Linked DNA regions of Homo sapiens: region 1 is linked to region 2. Evidence: fine-mapped expression QTL. A gene starts in region 2. The other region holds a variant in brackets. All regions are shown on one strand. Distances are from middle to middle.

Region 1 (3,004 bases), 44 kb before region 2:
GCAGGAGGGGCCTCAGGGCCCATGACTGCCTGGAGGGGACACTCAGCCTCTCTGAGGACATATGGGGGGTAGGCCTCTGGGGAAGGGTCTTTGCTTGGCATCAGGCAGGGCCAAGTCCAGTAAGGGCAAGGGGAGGGGGCATTCTGGTGAGAACAGCATTTCTGGCAAGACGGGCATCCACTTCAAAATCTCGGCTCAAAAGGGCAGCAGGGCTGTTCTCAAGCCAGGCAGGCAGGGTCCCCCAATCCCTACAATTCTCCTGAGTCCCTCACCACCATGGAGGACCCTTGCTAGGGTCTACCGGGAGAGTCACCACATCTATTATGAGGCAAGGGCACTGGGATATGTTCCCACCATCCCCTAAACACAAGAGTAGGCTAGGGGAGCGTGCAGGCAGCCCCCGCTCACGGCCAGGCCTGCAGCCCAACCCATGGGCCCCTTCGCACTGGGAGTCCACGTGAGCTCAGTACCACGGGGAAGGATAGAGAAGGGAACAGGTTAACGCGCGTGTACAGCACCTCAGAGAAGCCACTGAGACGGGAGAGAAAGAGCCAGGTCTAGAAAGGCCTCCCATCACCGGCAGCAGAGAGGGACTGGTGGGCTGAAAGGGGACAGGGACTGGCAGGAGGGGCTTCCCTGCCTGGGGGTGAGGAGGGAGCTCACGTGTGGGCTGTGGATTCCTTGCTGTCCAGCCAGGCTGGGGGCAGGGAGTGGCCATGGACTGAGCCACCTAGAGATGGGAGAGAAGTTGGTATGGTAAAAAAATAAATATATTTGAGTTCGGTTTAAGATGAGGTGAAGGTTTTCCAAAGCTTGGACTGAGGGGCCTGGATCAGAAAGAGAGGGACGGAAAGAGGCTGTGGCAGGGGCCTGGGAGAGCAGGGAGGAGGGGAAGCTCGCTCTGGGGCCTGCAGCGAGCTGCACTTTCAGCTTATTTGGACTGTGGGGAGCAGCGCCCCAGGTCAGTTGGTGGCCGCTGGGGAAGGCCCTGGAGTGGGGTGAGCAGGCTCCCTCCTCCCTCTTGCTCAGTCCAGAGACAGCATGGTTAAAGAGACAGAGGTAGATTAAAACATCGTGATTAAAAGCAGATTAGTTATCTAGGCTTCTCAGATTTAAAAACCAAACAATCGAGCAATCATCCCAAAAGGTAGCTTCGTGGTACCTCTGCTGACCCCACGTGTGACCTGGGCTGTCCCTGTCCCTGCCCTGTCCCTATTGTGGCCCGGGAGAGTCCAGCACTACAGGGCCCAGCCCTGACAGCCACGCCTTTGGCTGGGGCTGGAAGAAGTGGCAGCAGTGCTGGTGGCCCCGGCTGAGGCTGTTATTTCCGCAGGTAGCGCTGCGCCAGGATGGCCGTGTCCAAGGAGGTCATGGGCTGTGCGTCGTGGCCCAGCCGTCGCACCGGTGGTGCGCTGCCGAACTGCCGCTTGGGTACCCAGCTCCGGG[C/T]GTCATGGATGGAGCTCTTCTCCTCGGCCAGCAGCAGCTGCTGACGCATGTAGTTCTCAAACTCGTACTGGGAGCACTCCTCCGTCACCTTCGCCTTTGAGGCGGGGAGGGTGGGAAGGAGACAAAGATAAACCCAGATGAAGGCAGCGCAGCAGACAGGAGGGCAGGCAAGAGTGCTGGCAGCCTGGCTCCTGCAGTCACCCTTCCAGGCACCACACCCTCAGGCCTCAAGGCCGGGGGTGGGAGTGGCGCTGAGGGTGGGTCCCTGACCCCCTCCAGCCAACCTCAACTCCCCTTGCAGGCCGCCCTGCGGACCCGGGACTGACGCAGACTCATGCTTCCTAACTCACTGGCTGCGTGAGAGGTCACTTTACCTCAGAAGCCTTAGCTGTCTGGCCCCTCGCAAAGGTTCTCTGAGCCCTGAGGCGGCTAATGCACGTCAAGAGGTACGAGCAAGCCCTGGGCTGGGGGCGCAGCACCTGGAGGAGCCACATACGCAGGGCCCCATGCTGAGCTCCCTGGGATGGTCTAGGCAGATGGTAACAGAAGCTGAAGTGGTGTCCCCGTGCCAGTCACCACAGGAGACAGCAGGGCTTCCGGATGAGACTTGGGTTCAAGGCTTAGCTCCACTACTTCTAAGCTGTGTGGCTTTGGGAAAGTCCTCTCTAACCCTGTTTCCTCTTCTGTAACATGGGGCTAAGAACACAGGCCACGCAGGCCCGCAGTGAGGGCTGAATGAGGTGCCCTCGGGGTAGGCACTCACTGCGGGCTAGTGATGATGATTTTAGCCAAACAGCTAAAGGGTGGAAGCTGGAGGTGGGTAGGGATTGGAACTCTCTTTCCTCGGGGGCCAGGAGGCTCTGGGAGGCTCTCCCAGGCACGGCCCCTCCTGGTCCTACCTGCACACTGCTCACTGTGGAGCTCCAAGGTGGGCCAGGGAGGGAAGGTCCTTCCAATATCCAGGGCCCAGCAATGCTGTTGCTCGGCCAAGCCCTGCCCTCCAGGGGGCACCCTAAGATCACCTGCCCTCTGCTGCCTGGTGCCCAAGTCTCTGCCCCCACCCTAGGCCCAACACTTTCTCCAGTGCAGGGAATGGGGAGGAAAGAAATAGGGAGAAATGAATCATCTGAAAAATGAAAAGCAGGAAGGGTGAGAGAGAACTCTGAGTCAGGGGGCAGAGAAATGTGACTTGGGCAGCAGGAGGAAGCTGAGAGGGCTGGCCTGGGCCACTTGGGCACTGGCTCCAGCTCGGCTGTCTCACAGGTCTCTCTGGCCAAAGATCTCCAGCTACACCAAGCCCAAGGCAGGCCCCAGGCAGCTCAGGCTGAGGACTGAAGTCTCCCTTTCCCACCCCAAGGCTGGGGAAGAAGACCAAGGAAACTCTGTGGCCTGCGGGTAGCTGCCACCTCTGCCCTTGCCCTGCCTGCCCCCAGAAGCCTGTCCCTTGGGGCTGGGTAATGGCCCATCTGCCCTCCCCAACTCACCTCCTGGGAGCTATCCGCATTGCTCATTTGGTCATCAATGTCAGGAACCACTTGCAAAGGCCCACTCAGAGATG
Region 2 (2,745 bases):
TCTTAACCACTATGCTGTCTAGCACTTGCCTCTAGGCAAGGACTCTTGTTGTGGTCATGTGAGAAATGAATGAATGAATGAATGAGGACTGTCTAGATTAACCCAACCAACAACTTGCACAGCACGGCCATTAGGAAGCACTAAAGGAGCTCACAGGCACTGTTTACAAACAAGATTATTTTGGCCCTACAATTACACATTCTGCTCTTCCTTATCTCACGCAAAACTACTCAAAGAGGGAAAGGCGCCCAGCCCAGTATGCCTACCCTCTTCCCCACTGGTTCTCAAAACCAAAGCAAAGCCAACCGGTTTCCTCCAGTGACTTAAAACAGAGCAAAGTCTATCCTGCCACACAGAGGGCGGCTGTCATCTCTTCCTTCCGCTAACAAAAGGGCTTCAAACCTGGGGATTGGGGTGGGCAGAAAACTCGGCATCAGGAATCCGAATGTCCCTACCTAACTGGCTGGAAGGCGGGGCCAAGTGGCGTGGGAATGGGCGGGCCTGACCGGCTCGGCAGGTGAAACACTGACCACAGCAAGCTCTCCTTGGAAAAGGCCGGCCAAACGTGGCCTTGGCAAGCAGGTAGCTGTGACTCGTACCTGAACGCCGCCCGGGATATGAAAATTCCCCAGCAGCGGTAGCGCCCGTGCCAGAGTGAGGGCTCTTGGAGGAAGCCCTGGCTGGCCCTCCCTGGGGACTCGTTCTAACTATCAAGTCACCCTCGGGATTAGGAGGGAAACACGGAGAGGCAGAAGGTGTCTTTTTGGAAAGATCTGGCTGGATTCACACGCCGGTTGCTTCACTCACTGGCTGGGTGACTCTAGGCAAAGCTGGCAGTGCCCACTTCCCAGAGCTGCGGCGGGGACTGAAGCTCCCGCGGCCTCCCGGTACCCGGCGCGAGGCAGCCCTCGCCCCTGCCGCCGGGGAAGGGCAGAGCCCCAGCGGAGGAGGGGGCATTCGCCGGGGCCATTTCTGCTGCACTCAGATGGCTTCAGGCTGTCACTCCGATTCCACCGCCGCGGCCGCCGGGGCCCGCCCCGCCTACCCGCAACCCCCACCCGGCTCCCCGCTCCTGGACCCCTGCCCTCACCTTCGCCGGGTGGTCAGAGCTATTCGCCCATAGTCCGTAGCCCAGAGCCGGGGCTGCTCGGCTCTCCCTCCCGGGGGGCCGGGGCCGGGCTGGAGGCGTGCGAGCCTCTCACCGCCGCCTCCCAGCGCAGCCACCCGAGCCGCCGCCGCCGCCGCCGCCGCCTCCCTCCATGGCTGCGGCGCCGCCACCTGACAACGGAAGTGACGCACCGCCCCCCTCCTCCCCAGCCTTAGCCGCGGCCCCGCCCCCCCGGGCCCCGCCCTCCGCCTGCGTCTCCAGCCCCACGGCTTTCGGATTGGGGCGCCATCTTGACGATGGGCGGAAGACTTCAGGCAAGAGGCCAGAGTCCGATTGAGGATTGGTTCAGGGTGGGGTCTGGGCGAAACCTGTTACACGATTGGAGGCCGAGGCTCTAATGGGGCGGTACTTACTGCTGATCTATATCTGCGGCGAGGCTGGGACGGAGGCACCGCCCCGCCCGACCCCACAGAACCTCGCGGGCCCTACACTCCCCCTGCCGAGGTTGAAGTCCCCAGCGGTTGGAAGATCGGCCAATTGTAGTGTATTTATCAGAAAAGTGACTCATCCTTGATCCTCATTTCCCGGTTTGTGGAACTCTGTGAGGAAAGCCCTGCAGTTAGGCTCAATAAAAGACAGAAATTCCTGTCGCAGCGCTCATAATTCATTTCCCTCTAGGTCTGTCGCCTTTGTAGAAACCCCGAGGATGGCAACCTTCAACCTGGAGATCCCTGAAGCCTTGACCAGGGAGGTTTACAGTGAAGCGTTCCTATTAGCGACTACAGCTATCTAACCTCAGTTCCTCCTGCTGCAGTTTCGGTCCCTTTCTCCTCCTCCTCCAGCAACCACGCCCTCCATGAATCAGCTTCTTGCACCAGCAGATGAGCCCTTTAAAGGGATTGCATCAGGCAAGTGACTCACTGGGGCCCTCTAAGAGCCTGGCTTCCCTCCCTTGGCATGCAGAAGCAGCTAGAAGGGCTCAGTGGCAGCAGCACCAGCGGCCGTAGCCCCACTCCCTTGTCCCAGAGGTGTGAGTCAGGGTGTTTGCTGCTTATGATGTCTAACTCTTGGCTGTCTTTCCAGCTGTCCCCTGGGTCACTCTATATCCATGTGTGGGCACACGTGTCTAAGCTTGTGTGCACTGCTGGGTTTTCCTAGGGTGTGTGGCCACTTGTGTGTATGTGCATTTGTCATCTCCACATAGGCAGTGCCAGGACACAAGAGCTGATATGAGTGAAGTCTGGCTGCCTCTACCTGTGTCCTTTGTCTCTGAATGCCTGGTGCCCACTGAGCTGCTGATAGGGCTGACTAACAAGAGTAATCAGGACAGCTCCCACCGTTGTGCCACACTCTGCATGGAGCACTTGAGACAGTATTAGGTAGGAGGCTGTTTACAGCTGAGGAAGCCAGTGCTCAGAGAAGGAAATTAATGTGCCCAAACACACACAGCTAATAATGGCAGGGCTAGGATTCAAATCAAGTCTGATGGATTCCAAAAAACTTGGCTTTGAATCCCTGCTGCATCACTTACAAGCTGGGTGACTATGTGCAAATTGCCCAATCTTCCCCTTCTGTCCAAACAGGGATAACGCTTGGGGGATCACTGTGAGGACTCGGAGTTATAGAAACAGCTTTTT

The links.
Region 1: its variant is fine-mapped to the expression of STK40 in whole blood (TOPMed, PIP above 0.99).

Annotation. Positions count from the first base shown.
Region 1 is chr1:36,340,434-36,343,437 of GRCh38, forward strand. STK40 (serine/threonine kinase 40) reads right to left here. Exons shown (of 11, transcript NM_001282547.2): 10 at 2,931-3,004; 11 at 1-1,540. The coding sequence ends at 1,322. Among named protein-coding and RNA genes, the nearest start is that of EVA1B, 18 kb to the left of the region's middle. The variant C/T (reference allele first, on the strand shown) is at 1,447.
Region 2 is chr1:36,384,633-36,387,377 of GRCh38, forward strand. It overlaps STK40 (serine/threonine kinase 40), which reads right to left and starts at 1,292. Exons shown (of 11, transcript NM_001282547.2): 1 at 1,091-1,292. It overlaps LOC124904012 (a long non-coding RNA gene), which reads left to right and starts at 1,559. Exons shown (of 2, transcript XR_007065779.1): 1 at 1,559-1,695; 2 at 1,787-2,745. RefSeq lists silencers at 450-499, 800-869, 1,020-1,399 and enhancers at 1,606-2,745, 1,630-1,739, 1,770-2,139.